Linked DNA regions of Homo sapiens: regions 2 and 3 are each reported to be linked to region 1. The links are microRNA targets in miRTarBase. Many come from high-throughput screens and were not tested one by one. Region 1 holds a microRNA gene; each other region holds the end of a gene's coding sequence.
Evidence for each region. Region 1 holds the annotated microRNA hsa-miR-4789-3p (CACACAUAGCAGGUGUAUAUA, at 1,572-1,592, shown strand). A microRNA usually pairs through its seed, bases 2 to 8, with sites in the 3' UTR of a target mRNA and lowers its output. Matches are read on the target gene's strand: a 7mer-m8 pairs with bases 2 to 8, a 7mer-A1 pairs with bases 2 to 7 and ends in A, and an 8mer does both.

Region 1 (4,069 bases):
AGATACATCCCATCAATACCTAATTTATTGAGAGTTTTTAGCATGAAGCGTTGTTGAATTTTGTCAAAGGCCTTTTCTGCATCTATTGAGATAATCATGTGGTTTTTGTCTTTGGTTCTGTTTATACGCTGGATTACATTTATTGATTTGCGTATATTGAACCAGCCTTGCATCCCAGGGATGAAGCCCACTTGATCATGGTGGATAAGCTTTTTGATGTGCTGCTGGATTCGGGTTGCCAGTATTTTATTGAGGATTTTTGCATCAATGTTCATCAAGGATATTGGTCTAAAATTCTCTTTTTTGGTTGTGTCTCTGCCTGGCTTTGGTATCAGGATGATGCTGGCCTCATAAAATGAGTTAGGGAGGTTTCCCTCTTTTTCTATTGATTGGAATAGTTTCAGAAGGAATGGTACCAGTTCCTCCTTGTACCTCTGGTAGAATTCGGCTGTGAATCCATCTGGTCCGAAAATAGTTACATTTTACAAACGAATCTCTAACACATTTTGGTATCTTTTTTTATACTTTGAAAGGACTGTAGCAGGTGTGTGTGAGTGTGTGTGTGTGTGTGTGTGTGTTTATAGCCAGTATGTATATATGTAGCAAATACGTTCATGTGCCATTTAATAATGGAGATGCTTTCTGAGAAATGCATCATTAGGTGACTTCATTGTTGAGAGAACATCATAGAGTGCACATAACACAAACACATTGTGTAGCCTCCTAAACAACTAGGTTATGTCGTATAGCTTATTACTTCTAAGCTACAAACCTGCATAGCATGTTATTGTACTGAACACTGTAGGCAATTACAATGCAGTGGTATTTGTATATCTAAACATATCTAAACACAGAAAAGGTACAGCGAAATATGATATAAAAGATTAAAAAAAATTGCCACCCCTGTATAGGGCACTTTTCATGGAACTTGTGGGAGTAGAAGTTGCTCTGGGTGGATCTGTGAATGAGCAGTGAGCAAATGTGAAGGCCTAAGACGTTACTATGCATTACTGTAGGCTTTATAAACACTGTACACTTAGGTTACACTAAATTTGTTTTAAAAATTAAGTAATTGCACTAATGTCACAATGAGAACAATGCCACTAGAGTTTTTCAGCTCCACTATAATCTATGGAACCACCCTCATGTATGTGATTTGTTCTTGAGCAAAATGTCATCATGCAGCACCTGACTGTATATATATGTAGCAAGTATGTGTGTGCCTGTGTGCGCGTGTGTATATATAAATGTTACATTTACATACACCTGATATGTGCATGTGTAATTATATATGTAACAAGTATGTGTGTGCCTGTGTGCGTGTGTGTACATATACATGTTACATTTACATACACCTGATATGTGCATGTATACATATATAGGTAACAAGTATGTGTGTGCCTGTGTGCGTGTGTGTACATATACATGTTACATTTACATACACCTGATATGTGCATGTATACATATATAGGTAACAAGTATGTGTGTGCCTGTGTGCGTGTGTGTGTATGTGTATATATACATGCTACGTATGTATACACCTGATATGTGTATGTGTAAATACATATCCACACACATAGCAGGTGTATATATAGGTAGCCTGTGTGTGTGTGAGTGCATGTGTGTGTATGTGTAGCAGGGGTTTTGTGTTAGAACCAAGAGCTTGGAACTGGTACAATGAAAATATTTTGCCTGAAAGATATGCTTAGTAAAAGTCCCAAGTTTCACACATTTTTGAGGCTCAAAGTGAAGAACTCAAAGTGAATTATTAGGTAATCATATCTACTTCTTCCTAAACCCTTCATCTGATTGTGTGCTAAAATTTAATACTAACTGATCTTTCCATCTCCATAAAATTCTTTGAGATAACAAAATCCTACATTCCGGTTTCTGAAGGATGGTATTCTGCAAATGTGAAAGTTTCCCTTAACCTCCAAAAAATAATTGGGTTAATCCAGCTACCACAAGTGTGAAATTGAGAAGCTGCTTGCTAAGATTGAATTTAATATTGTCACATGTCATCTGAGAGCTGCTTGTCTGATCATGTTGCCACTGGACAAAGTAAGCCTTACTACAAAGGATAAAAGAATGATTATTTCAATATCCAGTCATAGTTCATCATCAAACTCTGAGTAAAATGGAGAAAAAAAGACGTTTTATCTTATATGACTCTATGCATTTCTCTGGGAAGTCATTTATCTGGTTGCTATCCAGGAGAGCAAAGATAATGGGAAAAATCTTCCACTATTCTCAACTATAATTTTAAATATCAAATTTTAATAAAATAGGTTTTGGTTATTTCTTTTAAAAGCCCTCAATATAAGAAAATGAAATGTTAGAAACTTATTTTATAAAATATATTTGTGAACCATAAAACCCCATATAAAATGGAAATTATTATCACCATTAACTACTGATGCTTCTAATCTTATTCTGTAATGGTTAAAAAATGACTAGAATTTAGAGTTACTGCCAATATATGGGGGGGGGAGGGATTTTATAAAAATAGCTTTATTCATTTGCATGTTAAGCAAGAGTGTGATTACTGATGGCCGTAAGAGTCACTTGCTGCTTTAAGCTCTGCTCTGCTGCTGACTCTACATGTGTAGCTTTGAGAGGTCCTTTAGCCCCTCCAGCTTTCCACATAGGCAGGATGTGGCTATTGTACTTGATGATATGCCAAACATGCTTCTGATTCCAACATTCGATGGTTCTGTGATATTTCTACCTTATTACAAAAGACATTCACTTTAAAAGTATAAACACCGTAGTAACTTTTTTTCTTTCATTGTTTTCAATAAAAGGGTAATGGAAGTAAACTGACAAGTTTAGGAGGCTTTCAGAGCATAAAGGAGAAAGGCTGGCAGCTCTTGAGAACCTCTTTGCTTTCAGCTGAGAGCAAGTAGAGAATGCTTGCTCTCTGGCCCTGAATGTCATAACATTATGTTCAGAATCATTGAAATGTCTGACAACACTGTTGATTAAAAATGAGAATCATTAGGCCATGTCTGCCGTTATAGGATGAAGGGTAGTTTGAACAGTATGGAAAAAAACTATCCCAAAAGGATGATTTGTCTTAGACAATATTACCAAAATTTCAAATTATACTATGTATAGTAATTTGCAGTAATTCACTTTTTTTTTATATTTAGCTTCATCTTAAAAGTTCTCCTTCATTGGTAATGCTTTGAAAAATGCTGGATTTAGAATTATGAAGAGACTATCAACTAATATTATGGATGATATTATTATTATTATTATTTTTTGAGACGGAGTACTCGCTCTTTCGCCCAGGCCGGACTGCAGTGGCGCTATCTCGGCTCACTGCAAGCTCCGCCCCCCGGGTTCTCGCCGTTCTCCTGCCTCAGCCTCCTGAGTAGCTGGGATTACAGGCGCCCGCCACCGCGCCCGGCTAATTTTTTGGATTTTTAGTAGAGATGGGGTTTCACCGTGTTAGTCAAGATATGGATAATATTATTTAGAAACCATTCTGTGTGCTACAAAAGTCCTTTGAGAATGATATGAGCTGGGCACGACGGCTCATGCTTGTAATCCCAGCTCTTTGGGAGGCCAAGGCGGGTGGATCACCTGAGGTCAGGAGATCAAGAGTAGCCTGGCCAAGATGGCGAAATCCCGTCTCTACTAAAAATACAAAAATTAGCTGGGTGTGGTGCAGGGGCCTGTAATCCCAGCTACTCAGGAGGCTGAAGCAGGAGAATCACTTGAACCCAGGAGGCGGAGGTTGCAGTAAGCCAAGATCATGCCACTGCCCTCCAGCCTGGACAACTCCATCTATTAAAAAAAAAAAAAGATAACCACTAAAATGGCTATTATTCATCTTTCAAAATCTGTAATACCTGGAAGTTCTGCATGACCTTTAGGAAAACTACATCCACAAAGCGTTCCTTCTAGTTTCCTAATAAGTTTTAGAAGAAATATTGCCATTCTGAGCTAAACTAGTTCTACTTCCTTAGGGCAAATTCCTACCATAACATGAAATAGACAAATATAATTACTCTAAAAAAAGTCCAGCCATAGCATCTTAGAGTTTAAAGGAATAACCCTTAGG
Region 2 (4,057 bases), not on the chromosome of region 1:
CCCCCTACTGTCATCCTTACCCCCATACCACTACTGCACAAGTACTACTAGTGGTTTGAGAATAAGTTCTTGGTTTTTTGGCTTAGCCTTAAAAGAAATCACACATCTGCTAAATATAGGGTGACCATATCTTTCAAACTGAGACATTTTTTGAGAGTGACACAGTGCTATTGATAATTATGCCAGTAAAACAGGCATAAATGGGGGCTGCCCTGGACAAACCAACACCTGAGGTTACTCAAGTTAAAAAGGAAATGAATGTCTACCAAATATAAGAATAAAAATTGATGGCTGTATTTTTTTAAAATTAAATAAATAAAAAGGAAATGAAGACTACATGTGGAAAATAATCTCCACTGCATTAGTGCAGACACTAGGTACTTGGTAAGTAGAAAAAGGAATGGCAGAGGTTTTGCCAGCTGTGGTGAAGAACAACTTTTGCCCCACCAGTTGTGTAAGATTCCCAGAATGTAGTAAAATTTCATTAACCAGGATGGAACTGTAGAGACAATGTTCATCCTTGCTGGATAAATCCTGTTATAGAAAAGGCTAATGAATAGTATAAACAAACAAGATTCTGCCAAATATTTTTAATATTTAGAAAAACAAGTTGTTTTAAAATACCCTTCATTAGGGAAGAAGCACCATTTGTACACAATTGAAAGGCTGAGTAAAAATGTTTTACTCATTCATCAGAAAATGTTCCCTACAGGCCAGGCGCGGTGGCTCACGAGTGTAATCCCAGCACTTTGGGAGGCTGAGGCAGGCGGATCACCTGAGATCAGGAGTTTGAGACCAGACTGGCCAACATGGTGAAACCCCGTCTCTACTAGAAATACAAAAAAAATTAGCTGGGTGTGGTGGCGCATGCCTGTAATCCCAGCTACTCGGGAGGCTGAGACAGGAGAATCGCTTGAATCCGGGAGGCAGCGGTTGCAGTGAGCCGAGATCACCCCACTGCACTCCAGCCTGGGCGATAGAGCAAGACTCCGTCTTAAAAAAAAAAAAAAAGAAAAGAAAAGAAAAGAAAAGAAAAGAAAAGAAAAGAAAAGAAAAGAAAAGAAAAGAAAAGAAAATGTTCCCTACAGATGTCAATAAGCCCGCTTGAATTTAGTAAGCCTTGTTTGAGTGGGTATGTATTTGAATGATTAAACTGCATTTCTTTACATATATTATCTAACATATTATGAAATGTATAATATATTATATATGTATTAATATATTAATATTATTCTACTTCAACCCAATGAATGAGCTTTGACTGTACTGTATAATTAAGCAGAGTATGTAGAATAAAGCCATGAAATAAACTCCAATCACAAAAACACATGTGAAGTTTTGCACATTGGCACCAGACATGATTTAATTGGAAATTCTTATTATTTATTCTATTTTCAAAACATAAGTGCTTTTTTAAAAAAAGTCTAACATGTCTTTTTAGTACCACACACTTAAAATGAACAAAAAACAAGTCGAGTTTTCTTAAAAGTTGCTTTAAAAGTTAAATACCACTGTATGGGGACCATAATGACACAATTTCGTAAACTCAGAGAAATGCAGCCCTTCGAGTAAGTTCAGGCAAATGAGTGTGGGAAGGAGTGGATCTTTTGCCTGTGGCACTACAGATATACTCCCTGAGATTGGGGTACACTTACAACCAGTGAAAAGACAAATAGTTTCAGAACAGGTTGTAAACTTTCTTTAAAAGTGACCAGAAAATAATGTAGTCAGAAAGCTACTTACTGTGTGTTTCCATTTGCTCTGAGAGAAGTGCTGAAAAGGTTTGCTGTCCTCTCTTTGTTTCTACTATCTGTATTCTATCACCCTACTATATGCTTACTTATTCATTATATTCATAAGATTGTCACTGGTTCTGCAAGAATTGTTCAGAGAGTCTCTCATCCCCACCCTCACCATTCCCAATATTGGGGAAAAACTTTAGAAATCCAAGATAAAGGAGGGGGTTGAAGTAGGAAGTTATCTAAGTGCAAAAAGGGAAGTTAACAGAGTCTCTGCACAATTCAGAAGAAGGAGAGTTAGAAGAAACATTTGTCAAGCAAGGCTACCTACATATGGGATGAAGGAAGAGGACTGAAGCTATTCTTCCACCAATCTGTGTGTGTCAATCTGAGTCCACAGTCACATCCCTTCTCTCACATGCAACATTCTTACTCAGTCCATCAAATGTAGATACAGATTGATATACAGACACATCAAAACTGCTTACATTCAGAAAAATTCCCATGTATGCTTATACACACACACACACACACACACACATACACACACAAATATGTGTCTTTATAAGAAACAGACATATGCCCACAGATACCATGATATACAGGGATATGTACACTAGAATTAGGAAGTGAAAATATATATGAAAGAGTTTAAGAATAGATGGGGGGATAGGGTGTCAGGGAGTTGAGTTGGATGTAGTAGAAAGTAGGTGAGTGAGACAGAGACCAGGAGCACATGAAAAGAATGCTAAGTAGAGCACCTATAGACTGGACTGCTGTATTTATCTTTGCTGAATACAGACGCTTCAAATTATTGTCTGTGTTGTGTATTGGCCCATTTTTCAAAGGCAGGGATTAAGCGCATAAGGCTGTCTTCAGGGAACTAAGCCACCTCTGATTCCCTCTCTGTTCCCTATGTATAAGACATTGTCCAGGCATCGTCTCTTCTTTCCCTTCCTCTCTGGAATTGGGCTCCGGGCTCCATTTCTGGGTTATTCTGCATTTTCTGCTGCAAATACAACTCTGAGTACCAACAATCTTTATAAAATGTGATTTCAAGTGTTAGTTCAGAAATTCTTAAATATGCATGCTGTACTTGCATTTTTTTGATATTTCACCAAAGTGAGAGAGGCATTATGTGTGCAGACACAGAGAGGGCAACAGTAGAGACAATGATTCTACATAGAAACAATTTTAAATTATCACTCAGTGTGAAGCAACCTGTAAGTAAGGAAGAAAACCATGATCCAGTACTCTCTTTTCCTAAGAAAAGGCACGTAGAATAGGTAATTCTAATTTATAGCAGCATAAATATTTAACAATTTAGAGTTTACTCATTTGAAATAATGTCCCAAAGTACCCACCACTCATATACACAATAAAATCACAAAAAAGAAAAACCAAGCTTTAGGAATAAGTTATTATTAACACTTGCTCCCCAAACAGGAGTTAGAAAACTATATTGGTAACAGATCTAGAGAATAAAAACACATGCAAACTTTTATGAATGATGAAAGAAATAAAGCCAATCATGACAGGCCTGGCTGAGTGTTCATTATACTCATAAGATTGTCACTGGTTCTGCAAGGTGAGCCTCCAGGTAAGTGTTCACTTCTTCTACAGTAGTTAGTTTATCGAAAAAGTTCTCTCTTCTTGGGAAGGATGGGACAGAAAGGGGCAGGGTTGGAGTGATTAGGCAATAACATTTTAGTTCCATGCACAATCAACCGAGGCAGGGACCAGCTGTCAAAAGGCTCCCAGAAGCCAGGAACCAAAGCCCTCATTGCATGGCACAGATGCTGTGGGGCAGGAACTCCTGCACGTAGGTGGCGGCTGCCTTGGAGAGGTAGGTCATGGTGCCAAACCTGCCACTGGGTGCACTGTCATACAGAAGAGTACAGATGCCAGATGCGGGATCCTTTGCCAACATGGTATCATCTGCGCCAAGGGTTTTCTGTTTGGTTTTTAAGGGTAGAAGAACATAGGGGAAAGGAAAAATTACCAATCTTACTAAGTAAAGTCCTGATTAGCATAATTCAGAACCTCCTCCCCAACACCAATTAGTTGGGCCCTAGACTGTTTATCCAGGAAGAAATAGGTTTATGGACAAAAGGGTGAATATGAGTTTGTATGCAGGCATTTTTCACTAGGTCCCCAAATCATGTAAATTATTTAAAAATTATTAATTGTTTAGAATTTTCCCCATTATGATCAATTTCTAAAAGTTAAATATAATCATTCATCTATTGAGTCATACCTATTAATAGACAAATGTTAACACAAATCACCGTAGTAGAGCTTTGGTCTGACTCCTTCTA
Region 3 (4,057 bases), not on the chromosome of region 1:
ACTGTGTTGATGGATGTATTGTCAAGGAAAAAGAAGAGAATTACACACTGTTTCCTTCAATTGTTAGATGGCACTGGATGTAGTGTTTTCAATGTTAATCCTGGTATCATGTTCTTTGCCATAAACTTGTTGACAAATTGGCAAATACTGACATGAAATATGCCAATATTTGAGCATCTAAAAATGTAGGTACTTTCCATACCACATCATATATTACAATTTGAAAATGTTTGTTTCATTTTTTATATAATTATTATACAGAACAGTTTTTCTATGATAGCATTATAAAAATTCCCAGAGAATACTGGCCCAGTAAGAAATGGAATGTTCACAACTCATAGTGTAGCTATATGAAAGAAATAGATCTAAACGACAGGTTGGTTTCCAAATTATATTTTCATACCTGGAAAATATCTACTTTATAAATAGCACAAAGTTATAGTTTTCAATGAATATGAAAAAGTTCTTGCATTAACATATTTTATGTATCTTTTATATTGACATTTGTGATTGCCACTAAAATGTGTATTTTCTAAATTTCATTGTGCTTTTACAAGATACTTTTTTCTTTGATGTCCATAACTGCTGAAAAGGCTCCCCTAAGGAGAATTTTAAGACTAAGTAAGGTTTTTAGTGAGCTTAAATTATACAATTCTGAGGCATTATTTAAGGTGCATACTGTATTTTTTGCTTGAAACCTGTCAGCATTTTATTTGTATGGCAATTAAATGACTCAGCCATTCATGTCTCATGCCAGTCTTTTTCAATTGTTATTTTTAACAAAGAAAATTATATATATATGTATATATATATTATATATATGTATATATGTATTATATATGTATATATATATAAACTTACAGCAAAAATGTTTAAAAATAGCAAATAGTTTGAGTATAGTTAAACCTAATAACTGTACTTTTGTTTCTATGCCTCTGAGACAAGATTACTAGACCCTTATTCAAAGTTTCTAAATATAGGAAATAGAACATTGGGCCATGCTAAAAAAATTGTTCAGATTTTCTTTTGAAAGAGAATAGTTATTTTTCCTCCTGACCTCTAATGAAGATGCTTTATTTGTCAAGGTGTTTTCCTTAGAAAATTGACCCAGTGTCAACTGTAAAGAAAACATAGAGGATCCTTGGATGATTGACCAACTTATCCAAACACAGGTTTAGTAAAGAGAGGATATAAAGATAAAATGTGAAATGACCTCTCTGAGTCACATTTGTTTTCATAATTTCCTAGCAAACATCCAACTTCACTGCTACCCTCAGCAATGTTTCTTGAAACATTTTTAAGACATTGATAGACACCAATAGCTGATCTTTAGAAAGCCATTCCCAGAAGAATATGTAAGGGGTTACAACTCATTTCAGGGAGTCTGCCTAGCTCTTGATATTACATGTCTTTGGCATACAATTGTGTACCTTTTATCATTGACAGTGAAGAAAATAATGCCATTTGTAACTTCTGAGATATACACACAATACTATCAACTAGCCGGTTAATAAAAGATAAGAAAAATAAAGAAAATAGAACATTTTTAGGTGTCTGGCAAGTATCCTCTAAATCAAGGTAAAGATAATAATTTAGTGGCAGTGTTCATATTTTCCTATGACTGTAAGATTTAGGTGCCTCACAAAATATTAATATTTAGCCTCTTATGAAAGGTTCGTTTTTCTTCTAACACTTTAGTAGCTGAATACAAAGAAAATACACAACAGCTGTTTATAAATGAAATAAAAAGTTTCCATTTTTTATCTGAGTTTCTCATTTATTTGCAGAGAACGAATAAAATAAAAATATCCTAGTGTTGTTTGCACCACAGCATACCAGTAAATCTTAAGGATTGTGTTTCAGTATGAAAAGGAAGAGCAGGAAGATTTCCTCATTCTGTCTTACCAGCAAAAGTCTAGCCTTCACACACACACACACACACACACACACACACACACACACACACACACACACACAGAGTCATCTATATGAACACGTACTTGAGTTTCTTAAACATATATGAAGCACCTTCCATTTCCCTTTATAATAAATCCCTTAGTTTTTGCTGTTCATTAAAAAACAAAAAGGAAGAGACAAGCTCAGGACATTCTGAAAACCAATGTCTTTAGGACACACTAAGGTGTCCTGAATTACTTTAACGGACACATTGTAAAGACACACTCTCCAATCCCTATTAGGAAAAGTTTAGTCAAGTTTGCTTACTATTTGGGTGCTTATACCAAAAAAGCATCATTTAGGACATTATTTAGGATAATATTATTTATGCAGGAATTGTACCACCTATTTCCAGATGGTATAACTTATTATCTGACAGGCATGTAGCAAATAGAACACAAAGCATAAATCTGTCAGGAGAAATCATACGAGAAAAAGAGCATTGTCTGGTTATCAGAATATCAGATCTCTCATTCTGGCCTTGCTAGGAAATAGATCTTTGATTCTAGAAAAGTCAACTAATTTCTATGGTTCTTACTTTTCTCCTTTATAATATACCCATTTAAATTCCAAAAAGGTATATGATAAATCACAATAATTTCAATCACATGGATTTTAATACAAAATGTATAAAATCAATTTCCAAAAATTTTCTGCATATACTGAAAATGTCTGTACGAATGAGCTAACTACTATAGGCCTTCCCTAATTTATTCTATTAAATGTGGGTACTCAATGTAACCTGAAAATATTGAGCTTAACTCTTCTTTTTTTTTTTCAAAAGGGAAACTTGAAAAAGACTGCTTCCCCCAGAAAATTTATCAACAATAGGTGCTCAATTAAATGTTTTTAAACAATGAACAATATCCCCTTTCATATAAATAATCAGGGGAGAGATATTTTTAAGTCTTTTTTTTCTTTTTCCATAGTGTCACCTACACAAAAAATTATGTAAAGACACCACTTCTATGAGGAGGTATTCATTGTAGATGTACAGAAGTCAACGGAAACTTAAGTTTACAGAAAAAATAAACCAGATTATCATTCCACCCAACTGTATATTCCCACAGATGCTTAATAAAAGCTATCTGATGATATAATGAATTATCAGTTCTTGAGGAAGTATATACAGTTGGTGACTATTTTTCAAAAATCATCATCCAACAAATTTTTTTCATTTAAAATCTTTCATATTACCCTTTCGACAATCAGTTGAAATTTTAAAACTAAGAACATTTAAAAATATAAATGAAAGTAGCATTAGCTATAGACTGATATTCAACTTCAGACGTTAAAATAAATACAAGTGTGTATTAAGAGTAAAATTATGTCAACAATGTATAAATGAAAACTGCCAATGTAATTAATGTTTCTTTTAACATATCCCATCCATTGCTTTCCCTCCAAAAGACAAAGGTAGCAAAAGACGAAGCAGGAAGAACTGCTTCAGAAACTGAACATACTGATTTAATTGGCTAAGAAGTCCAAATGCTAATACTCCTAATAATTAGCCATTCCTTTTGTGTTTTGGTGACATATATCCTCATACAATGTATATCAAATGGAATTTTTTGATTTACACCTGACATTTCAAAGTTTCCATTTTTGAATTCTCCTAGTCTTAAGTAAGTAGAACATTGTCTCCTTTGTTTGCTAGGCATAACGTTTTCCCCAACATCTAGGGCTCCATGATGCAAAATATCATTTTGCCGATCTTCTGTTCCAGTATTTACTTTAATTTTTTTTATTATAATTGGATTTTCAAATACAATCACAAAAACATCTCCTGTTGAAGGTGGTTTCCCCCAAAAGTACTCATCAACACTACTGTAAGCCTTGCTTGCTTCATAATTTTCAAACACATTCATGTTGGTGTACAGACTTGCAGGGGGGTTATCAGGAATGTCAAATGACTCCTCTTCAAAATCATCATCCTTCAGCTTATTCTCCGTCCCTTTGTATGATGAATAATAGCCCATGTGCTGAAAGAGAGATGGTTTAAAACGGATCACATTTTTCTGAGCCAACAGACCACGGAAATGAGTCAATAGCCAATCACAAGGCATTTCTTGATAAAACATTAATAAAAAATGGGCCAAAC

Region 2: the mRNA of PHKA1 is a reported target of hsa-miR-4789-3p. Seed matches in the 3' UTR shown: 7mer-m8 at 2,276-2,282.
Region 3: the mRNA of MGAT4C is a reported target of hsa-miR-4789-3p. The part of its 3' UTR that is shown has no 7-base or 8-base seed match.

Annotation. Positions count from the first base shown.
Region 1 is chr3:175,368,019-175,372,087 of GRCh38, forward strand. MIR4789 (microRNA 4789) reads left to right here and starts at 1,522; the gene lies at 1,522-1,603. The region is part of intron 5 of NAALADL2 (N-acetylated alpha-linked acidic dipeptidase like 2); the gene reads left to right.
Region 2 is chrX:72,577,483-72,581,539 of GRCh38, forward strand. It overlaps PHKA1 (phosphorylase kinase regulatory subunit alpha 1), which reads right to left. Exons shown (of 32, transcript NM_002637.4): 32 at 1,332-3,693. The coding sequence ends at 3,520. Among named protein-coding and RNA genes, the nearest start is that of HDAC8, 6.7 kb to the left of the region's middle.
Region 3 is chr12:85,975,858-85,979,914 of GRCh38, forward strand. It overlaps MGAT4C (MGAT4 family member C), which reads right to left. Exons shown (of 5, transcript NM_001351288.2): 5 at 1-4,057. The coding sequence ends at 3,432. Among named protein-coding and RNA genes, the nearest start is that of NTS, 100 kb to the left of the region's middle.